2 separate regions of the Homo sapiens genome follow, and region 1 is linked to region 2. Evidence: fine-mapped expression QTL. A gene starts in region 2. The other region holds a variant in brackets. All regions are shown on one strand. Distances are from middle to middle. Region 1 overlaps TARID (TCF21 antisense RNA inducing promoter demethylation). Region 2 holds the start of EYA4-AS2 (EYA4 antisense RNA 2).

The links. PIP is the estimated chance that this variant, and not a neighbour inherited with it, causes the effect.
Region 1: its variant is the best candidate, but not a certain one, in a credible set for the expression of EYA4-AS2 in transverse colon (GTEx, PIP 0.77).

Annotation. Positions count from the first base shown.
Region 1 is chr6:133,537,750-133,543,143 of GRCh38, forward strand. All of the region lies in intron 5 of TARID (TCF21 antisense RNA inducing promoter demethylation), which reads right to left. Among named protein-coding and RNA genes, the nearest start is that of EYA4-AS2, 84 kb to the left of the region's middle. The variant T/C (reference allele first, on the strand shown) is at 2,792.
Region 2 is chr6:133,454,334-133,459,727 of GRCh38, forward strand. EYA4-AS2 (EYA4 antisense RNA 2) reads right to left here and starts at 2,272. Exons shown (of 3, transcript NR_199014.1): 1 at 2,201-2,272. It overlaps EYA4 (EYA transcriptional coactivator and phosphatase 4), which reads left to right. Exons shown (of 20, transcript NM_004100.5): 6 at 2,223-2,315.

The DNA.
Region 1 (5,394 bases), 83 kb after region 2:
TCAATTAATTTGCATTTAAGTTAAGATACATTTTGCAGATTCCTCCCTTTTAAAACACCTTTAAGCATGCATATCAACTGCTCTTAATACAACAGACTTACAGGCTCCCTAACCTACAGCATGGTTCCAAGAAGGGTACTGGACAGGCTTCTGATTAGAGTGGGGAATTAGGAAGGTTCTGGGGCCACCTAATATAGGAAAAATAAACCATGATGGAGCATTGAGTCAGCATGATTTATGATTTTAGGAGTATCTGAATGGAAGATGTTCAGAAGCAAGTTCCTAAAGGGTAAGTGGAGAAAAGCTATGTAGCCAAGTTTACCTCTTTTCTGAAATTCTATAGTGGAGATGATTTTTTTTTTTTTTTTTTTTTTGAGACGGAGTCTTGTTCTGTCACCAAACTGGAGTGCAGTGGCGCAATCTCAGCTCGCTGCAACCTCCGCCTAGTGGAGATGATTTTTTTTTTTATTATTGTGGTAAAATACAGATAAAGGTAACGATCTTAACCATTTTTAAGTGTACAGTCAATGGCATTAAGTACATCCACATTGTTGTGCTGCTGTCACCACCATCCATCCACAAAACTCTTTTCATCTTCTAAAACTAAAACTCTACCCATTGAACAATAACTTCCCATTCTCCTCTCCCCTTAGTACCTTGTAGCAACTCCTCCACTTTCTGTCTCTACGAATTTGACTACTTGAAGTACCTCATATAAACAGAATCATATAGTATTTGTCCTTTTGTGACTGGCTGATTTCATTTAACAAAATTTCTTTCAGGTTCTCCTGTTTTGTAGCCTATGTTAGAATTTTCTTCCTTTTTAAGGCTGACTAATAATATGTGTGTATACTATATTTTGTTTCTCTATTTTTCCATTGATGGGCATTTAGGTTGCCTCTACCTTTTGGCTCTTGCAAATAATGATGCTATGAACATGGGTATACAAATAACTGGGTCCCTGCTTTAAGTTCTTTTGGATATGTACCCAGAAGTGGAATTGCTGGATCTTGTGTAATTCTATGTTTAATTTTTTGAGGAACTACCATACTTGCCATACTTTCTATGGCAGCCACACCACTTTACATTTCTAACAATAGTGTGCAAAAATTCCTTTTCTTCACATCTTCACCAACACTTGTTATTTTCTGTTTGTTTTTTATAGTAACCATGCTAATGGGTGTGAGGTGATATCTTATTGTGGTTTTAATTTGCATTTACCTAATGATTATGGCATATTGGCCATTTGTATATCTTTGGAGAAATGTCAATTCAATCATTTGCCCATGTTTTAATTGGGTTGTTTTTGTTGTTGTTGTTGAATTGTATATTCTGGATATTAACTCCTCATCAGATACAAGATTTGCAGACATTTTCTCCCATTCCTTGGGTTACCATTTCCATAGTAAACTTGACTTTTGTGTGTATACAAAGCATCCCTCTTTTTAGGGAACACCATACTCCTGGGCATATGGCTGAACCCTAGCCAATCAACATATTCCACCCTCTTTGTCATATTTATTTGCCCAAGAATGGGCTCAGGACCCAAGCTAAGCCTATGAAAACTCACCCCAAGACTTTTCTCCAAAGTCATTATGAAAGATGCACTGTCTTTCTGGGATTAGGATCTCTGGTGACTATGTCAGCCTAAAATGCCAGAACCATCTTTCCTACCACATTGAGAGAGAATCTGAATATGAAGCCAACATGTGGGAAACAGCTCAGAACCCATGCCCTGTTGATGCTGTCAGAGAATTTGGTTTTAGGATGTCAGGAGACAGAACTTCAACTCAGTGACCATGCCTGGAATTTCTAGTTTTGTAAGCCCAAAACTTTTTTATTCTTTTTTCCTTGAACTTGATTGACTTTAGTTTCTGTCATCTGTGGTCAAGAGAGTATGCATGAATGTCCAGTTGGAAATGTTAATTCTTGGAACCAGCAGCTCAAAGCATGCCCTCTAGTCAGTGCTTAGGATTGATTAGAATAAAAGATGTTAAAGAAGAAAGGATGTTGGAGTCGATTACTCAAATTATAAAAAGTGAGTTTGGGACTCCTGACTGTGTTATTCCCTAGGTCTTCTGCTCTTTCCAGCTATATAGTGGCCAAGACATGTGAGACTAGGAAGAGATGGATAGTTATTTATAAGGAAAGGGGCTTCAAATGTCTCACAATAGTTTAACATTGTTACTTTAAAATATTTTCCCCTCTAAACTGTGGTGCTTTGGATGAATCCTGGCACCTCACTCTGTGTCACCCTGCGATTTGGCCACACCTCTTAAGAACACAGATATCCAGGACTAGAATTGCAGTGCTCCATCTGTTTCTTGCATTCCAGCGCCATCCCATAACCACATCAAATTATCTGTGAAATGCAATTTAGAACTCACTTAGTGAATAGGATGCCACATCCTATGACCACTCCTTAATTTTTCTTCTTTGGAAAAATGTGTGACCTATAACCCTGACCTATGACAGTTCCACCCATAGGCAAGCAATGTGTTAAATAGAAAGGGCACTGCTGAATCACGTTAAGCCTCCAACATTCTGCTTAACAGGACTAGCGTAGTAGTTAGGAGTGTATAGGTGTTCCTTTTCTCCCATTTCTAATGTAACTCCAATACACCCATACTGGCACGCATACTGAGAGCTTATTTACCATGCTTTTTGATCAACTATAACTTTTTTTTAAATAACTAAATGATAAATTCTAAAAATAAGAGTTTCTATTGCAACAACAGACAAGACCTTAGTGCTAGAAAGCACATCATCATGTCAATGGAACAACAAATCA[T/C]GAGCTTGACAGTAATGAAGCTGTTGCTGAGACATTTGTCTGTCTTTTTACAGGGCAATAATTCAAGTTTGAAGGCACGTATTTATTTAACGTTATGTCTAGGAATAAGTTGCCTTCCTAGCCTGAAATTTCTTTCTTTACCCAATGACAAAATTGTACATAATTAATGAGTGCATTCATTGTGTTTTGTTTTTTTAAAAAAATGGTCTAGCAAAATTTCCTTCTGAACATTTAGTTTAATCATGTTTATTAACTACAAACCGTGAGGTACTTGCCAACTCTGACCATAAAATGTTCTATTCTGAGGCTGTCTCTCTGTTTCTGAGGAGAATAAGAAGTCAAATGTCTTGAAAATAACCAATCCCATCCTGAGAAAACCTTCTAGTTACTTTCTCTCCTCGGATTTTGTTTTTTTAATTAAAACAAGCTAAAGTGAAATAAATAAAACAAAATGATCTGTAATGGTGGAGGCAAGTGGAATGAAAGTACATTTTCCATTCAAAACAATGTACACATGAATGTTTAAATTCATCAGCCTTTCACTGTGTAATAATGTGACATGTTTACAGTGTTGAAGGAAATCAGGTGTTTTCATGCTAAATGAAAATAAAATTTATGTACTGTTATTACCATATTCTTTGCCTGGTGTTTCTCACTCTATTCATCATTAAAGGCTGCTCAATAAATACTGTGCTAACTGCCTGTGTGGATGTTATGCAGTAATAACTCAGAATAACCATAAATAACCACCCACCAGCGCCTTGGGGAGAGTCAAGGCTTTAAGAGGGAATGCTTGCTCCCCAGTTGCTAGATGGTGTAAAAAAGATCCCTAAGTCGATTTTCTCTCCATAGTTGATACATTAGAAGCAAGGCTTAGACCCCAGTATTCCACCTTAAGACAAGGTCTTTGTCCATCATCATCTCAGGAGCTGAGGCAAGCAGTGGGCTAAATAGTGTGATTTTAGACATCTGAAGTTTTCTTCTACGCAACTGTTATCAGAAAACCTCTTGGAGGATTACTTGTCTCCTTGTGTGTTAGTTCTCTATTGCCGCATAATGAATTTCTCCAAAATGTAGCAGCTTAAAACATCAAACATATATTATCTCACATAGCGTTAGAGGGTCAGGGAGCTGGAAGCAGCTTAGCTGTACAGTTCTGGCTCAGGGTCTCTTAGAAGATTAGAATCAAGGTATCAGCCAGGACTGCAGTCACCTCAAGTCCTGATGGGCTGGAGAATTCTTTCCCAAGCTCACATAAGTGGTTGTTGGCAAGAATCAGTTCCTCCCTGGCTCTTTGCTGGAGTCTTCAGTTGCTTGCCACATAGGCCTCACCGTGAGAATAGTCACAGCATGGTAGCTTGCTTTTCACAAAAAGAGATCCAAGAGGAAGAGGTGGAGCAAGCTAGCAAGAGAGCACCCAAGATGGAAGCTGCAGTCTTTTACCCTAACCTCAGAAGTGGTGTACCTTTTGCCATATGCCATTTGTCATATAGCTCAAGCATGGTACAGTGTGGGAGGGGGCTACATGGGATGTTAATACCAGGATGCAGGGGATCGCTGGGGCTACTTTGGAGGCTGGCCGCCTCCCTCTAGGATGAAGCTGGCACTGACGCAAACAGATTGAAAAGTGAGATGAATCGGCGCAGTCAATTGGAAAGAGCACATTCAGAGTAGGATGTACCTGAGTCATCCAGGTAGCAAGAGAGCACTCTTGCTACCTTGTGGTAATTACCTCACTGAGCCTTAAACTTCCCATCCCTAACCATTACCCATCTCTTGTGGTTGGCTGTGAGAGTTAAATGAGATAATATTTAAAGAGTCTGCCTTCTGTGGAGGTTCCTCTAAAGGAAATTAACAATAAAACAAATAACAATAAAAACAAAAAAAAATGTATTTTTTTGTAAGATAGAAGAAATCCAAAAATAGCATGCCACTGTATTTGGAGGATACAGTATCCTCAGGAATGGGGAGACATGAGCGTGCTGGCAATGTTCCAGAAAGGGTAATGCTTTCATATTGTCTCTGCTCCTATTGTTTTCTACTGAAAAGTAAGGTAATGGTCCTGCTTCACTGTGTCAGCCAGGGTGCTCAGGAAGTGCGGTTGAGTCACTTCCCAAGCGTTTATTGAGCCCCGGTGTGCTGGGCACTACTAAGACTCAGCTCCTGACATCATGTTGCCCCTCATCCTGCCTGGGGGTGGAGAGTAGATGAGGGGACAGGCACAGAGACAATTCTCACCTTAGGTGGGAGTTTGAAGAAAGAAGTGTGTGTGTGCAGAGGAAGGAGGGCCTGACCATCTGGGCGAAAGAGGCAGGTCTTCAACCAGTTCTGGGCACTCAAGCAAGGGAATGCCTGCTAGAAGGGGCAGTGGCAATGTGGGCAGGGAAAGGGGTGGTGGCCTGCTCCCTGGAATTCTTCTTAGGGTTCATTGCCAGGTTAGCAAATACAAATGCAGGACATCCAGCTAAATTTGAATTTAAGGTAAACAGTAAATAATGAAATATTTGGGACATTTACTAACAAAAATATTATTTGTGTATCTGAAATTCACATTTAGCTGGGTATTTTGCATTGTCTCTGGCAACTCTATCCTGGGGCAAACA
Region 2 (5,394 bases):
AACATTGCGTGAAATGGAGTAGCCTTGATACCCATCTAGATTATACTCTGCATTATCTTCATACAGACAAAAGGAATTCTTGATTAGCTAGTGCTGCCTGAGAGGCAGTATGGTTTAAGAGTTTGGATTCTGAACACACACTACTTGGTCTCAAATTCTAGCTCTTACAAGCTTTGTGACTGGGGACGTTATTTAACCTTTTTGTGCCTCAGTTTCCTTATCTGAAAAATAAAGATGATGATATTATCTACTGACTGTTGAGAGGAGTAAATCAGTAGGTGTAAAGGACAAGAGAAGTGCCTGGAATGTATCAAGTTCATTTTAAGGGTGTGCTGTTACTGTTACCTAATTTCAAATTTGCTACTTCTTGATGTCTTTTAAAATATCCCATGAGGAAGAAATGGGAAACATGCCTTAGTATCCTATTCCAGTATTTTGCAGTTTTTATTTTCAGTGAAGTATTTTTAATTATTCTATCTAGGAGATAATTGCATTCTCATCATGCTTTGGGCCTTTGAGAAGAGACACTGTCATGAGCATAAGCTATTTTCGTACCTGAAGGCAGCCTGATACGGTGGAAAGATCCTGCATACTAGAGCTAAAAACCTGAGTTCAAATCTTAGCTCTACCGTCTCCTGCACTGGAACTTATGCAGGCTTTTCAGCCCCCCTGAACTTCAGTTTCCTTGTCTATAAAATGGTTATAGTGATTTGTATTAATTAGAGTTGTTTTAAGGATTAGCTAAATGTACATCATCTAGCACGTAGCAAGCTCTCAATAAGTATTAGTTTTATAGTAGTAAATATAAAGGTGATAAAATGATTTTATAATGATAGGTTTAGTTATTGATAAGGTATAACCATAATAGGGATTACTGTGCAAATTACTACTGAAAAGTAATAACCACCAATTCATTATTTATCATTATATAAATAATTAGACTACTCTTCAGATCATTGTTGCTCTTGAAAGATAAGTCAAACTTGAGTTTGCTTTTTTGCTAAGAAAAGTAATCCAAGTTTCTTTACTTTCTGTTTCCAACATTTACATTTCTCCTCTGAATCTTCCAGCTGATCATGTCATTAATAAATAATGGATACTAAATTAACCCAGAGCTCACTGAAGGTCTGGTTAATTCTGTTCATGTGGAAAAGAGCATAATCATTACCGCATGGTTTTCTATCAATTAATTTCTTTTCTAACAGAATAACATTACTGACTTGTGTGATTGGTGGGTACCCTATGACTGACTGTTCTTTTTTGTCCTTTGGCTAGTCTTCAGCTTTCTTCTTTATAATTTTCTGCTTGCTTCTAAGTTATTTAACTGTATCATTCATTTCACTTATGACCAGGAAACACAAGAGGTGTTAAGTAGAAAATAGCTTAGTTTATTTCCTTGCTGCTATGATATATGTAGTAAAGCCTTGCCAACAAAGGGAAAATATGGTGTGACCAAATGGGTAAAACTTTATTCTCACGCCCCATCACCCTTGTTGCATCTAATAATGATAATAATGTGTACTAGGCCACTTTGTTACCAAGCAAAGATTTTGCCAAAATACACCATTACCACGTAGAAATAACATATTAAAATGAGTTTTCAAAAGGTGTACTTGCTGCTGTAGAAGTCATCTCTTTTTCTACGCTTATCTCTAAACATATTAAAAATTGTTATGCCATTAAAGTATGAAGCCCAACACCTTATAGCTCGTGAGTCTTTTTTAGAGCTTCATTGAGTGCTTCATTTTTCATTCATTGTGTGAATGAGCCCATGGTTTCTATACTTTTATATGTCTCCATTGTATTATTATGCAAACTTAAAAAATATCTTCCTGGGAAAAATAAAATATAAGCTAGTAAATTTCTTTGGTATAATTTTAATTAAATGTGCTGAAGACTGATGATGATTCCTTCTTTCCTATTGACTATATGAGAGTGTGTTTAGGTGAATTAAAAATACAAATATGTGTACTGCTGTTTCACTTTTTAAGGCTGACTGCCTTTAAAAGCTGGATTTGAGAGAACTAGCTTGGCCAGAGGATTTTAGATTAAATCCTCTAAATGCATGCCCGTTTAGAAGCTAAATTAACAAACTCTCTTCATCAACTTCTCAGGTTTTCTCTTGCATGCCCATGGTAGCTAGAAATATCACTAGTAGAACGGACAGAGTCTTTGACATAAATTTAGAAGTAAAACTCACATGTACTTATTCTTCTACGTAGTGTCTCTTCTTGCAGTCAAAACAGAGCCCTTGAACAGCAGTGAAACCACAGCCACGACTGGAGATGGAGCGCTTGACACTTTTACTGGGTCAGGTAAAGCCTTTAGCTCGTGTGTCCTTACGTACACATGGGGGTGCATCCACATCCTCCTCCTCGGGAATAAGCAACATAAGCATCCAAGCTCTTAGAACTTTGATCCTTATAAAGTTAGAAACAAATTCTTATTTTTTGAGAACTCATAGTCATAGCAGTATGCATTGTTATAAATTATATTTAGAATAATTTCGCTTGATATTTTAGTTGACAGCAAAAGTCCCATGACTTTCTTATTATGGATAAGTAAACTTAACTTCCTTCAAAATTATTTTATACGATGTTTAATTAATTTAATAATTAAGTTGTAGTAGCTGACCTTGCTTCTTCAACTTACCCATTTGAATTACATAAAAACTGCCTTCTGTTTAACATTCGAGATGTAAAACTATCCATTTGATTCCTTCTAAATAACCTTGTTTCCTCTCTGGGTTTAAAAAACTCCTCCTGTGTAAGCAGCTGAGTGACAAGTATTAAAGGTTAATGGGCTGCAGGAGAGCACATGCTGGTTGCATTAGAACCCAGCCTCTGAGAGCGCTCGAATGCTTCAAAGAGAACAATAGCATGTCTTTAAACATCAATCCCTTTAAAATATAAATACCTGATAACTCCCAGCTGGGCACAAAGGGCATGAATTAAGTAGACTTAATTAAATTTTTTTAAGTTACAATATTTCTTCGGCTTTTTATCTGGTGAAAGGATTTTTCTAACCTGAGGAGGATCGGGTACATCAGAAAGAAGAACATTAAACCTAGGAAAGTATTTGTGGTAATTGAATCTCGGTTCTGTTATTCTACTTTAATACATTTTACATTTATCCATGTGCTCATGTTATAAGGATTTTTTTGTCAGTATGTTTTGTGTAAAAATAGTTGAGATATGTCTTAGAGTATTATGTCATTATAGCATATATTTGATTTTTACAGATGATCTAATTTCACTAGTTCACACCGATTAGAAGCAGTTGCCATATATTTACATAAATATTAGTACTCCAAGAAAGAAATAATAGTACATAAACTTTGCACAGAGACTCATATGTACTAATCCACATCTTTTCTAGCAGTTTACCTGCCTCTCAGGAGATAGTTACCAGTTCAGTATTCTGTATTGCACACTTACCATAGCTTTTGTAAACTTTCTGCAAAATAAATCTATATGAACAAATTGTTAAGGAAAGGAATGGAGTTATTAACTTATTGCTGACCTACTTCAGTAGTATACTACAAGTTAATTGAAAGCTGAATGACAAAACTATAAAGTGTTAGCTCCAGAAGGAATTTCAGAGCTCTCTGATCCGTTTTGTAGACAAGAGAAGTTAAAAGTGGTTAAGGCCATACAGTCAAGGCCTCACAGCTGGTCAGTGGTATAAACAAATCTAAAACCATGTCCTTATGATCAGTCCCTGGGTCCTTTCTGTAATGCCCCATCAGAAAATAGATGGAAAAAGAAATAGGCATGAACAATCATCCTGTCTGAAATTCACTCATATTGTCTTTGTAGATATTTTCGCAAATTTTTAAAGAAGTATCTAGGGACGTGCTGTCCAGTAAGGTAGCCACCAGTCATATGTGGTTATTAAAATTTGATAAAATTAAAAATTTTGTTTTTTATTTTCATTTTCACAGCAATATTGCAGTAAGTATATTTTTATTAATTGATTTTGAAAATCATCAAGTACGACTAGAGGCGTTAAGTTCTCAATATTTTCAGCAACCAAAATTTAACTGAATTTTCAAGTTTAAACACATTTCAAGTGTTTAACAGCTGCATGTGGTTAGCAGCTACCATATTGGACAGCTCAGATACAGAACATTTCCAACACTGTGGAAAGTTTTATTCCACAGCAGTGATCCAGGGCAGGGATTATCAACATCAGCACTGTTAAAGACTTGGGCTAATTCTTTAGTGTGGGAAAGCTATCCTCTGCACTGTAAGATGTTTGGCTGCATCTATCCCAGAATGCCAGCAGCACTCCCCCAGATGCTTCTTTACTAAAGAAGCAACCAAAGATGTCTTACTAAAGACAACCAAAAATGTATCCAGACTGTTTAAGTGTCCCCTGGCAGGCAAAATTCTCACCCCCACCCACTTCTCATCCCATTGAGAGTCACCAATCTAAGATGGCACGATAATGAGAATGAAACCTTAAAATTGCTTTGACACCATCAGAGAAACTGACAATAGATATTAAACATGTATTTAAATTAATTTTCAGGGCATTTTGAAAACAAGCAGTTTTGCTTACTGTTGTATGCAGAAATGATGGAATGTAATGAGTGTTTTGGGTAATGTTTATGATTAATCAGATGACAGTGGGGAATAAAACGAAATTCTTTCAAGTTTGTACAAGATATTCCAGAAACCATTCTGGAAATGAGGCTGCCCTTTGTGGGAGCAGTCTTTACTTTGATCTGCAAAATTTCCACTCACTTTAATCCAATTTTGTTGTTCTTTTCAGTTATCTGCAAATTTCTGAATTAGAACAAAATGTATATATTTTAGTAAAGAAGCATAAACTTTCCTACGTGAACATCGTAGTTTTCTGAGCCAAAGGTTTTCTGTTCTATTTAGAAAATGAACATATAGACGTTAATAGAAATTTGTAAAGGTTAGTTGAGGCTTTATAGTGTTGTGAGTACATTATTCTAATGATGTTTAGATTTATCATTAGAAGAAACATCCTATATATTCAGAATTGAGTTCATGTATATGAGTTTTTTCTGAAATGTGTAATTTTGGTCTATGTCTTATTTATAAAAGGTTACTATAATGAATATTTATCTTCATGATTCAGCGTCTCTTTGGAAAAGCCTTCTATTTCACAATATTGATAATAACTGATGAGTATAGCCCAAGTCTTGAGTGTACCAAGGAGAAATTCTGTAAAGAAGAGACGAAAGAATATTTAATCAAGCGTCATTTAACTATATTTCTGTTAGAGTATTTGGTATTGTTAATCGATAAATTAGAATGAATATCTTTGGAATAACACTACTATTATGAAGTGCACATTTAATGTCCATTGTGTAGTAGAACAAAGAGTCTGTTTTCATTAAGTTGATTTGAAAATTTAAAA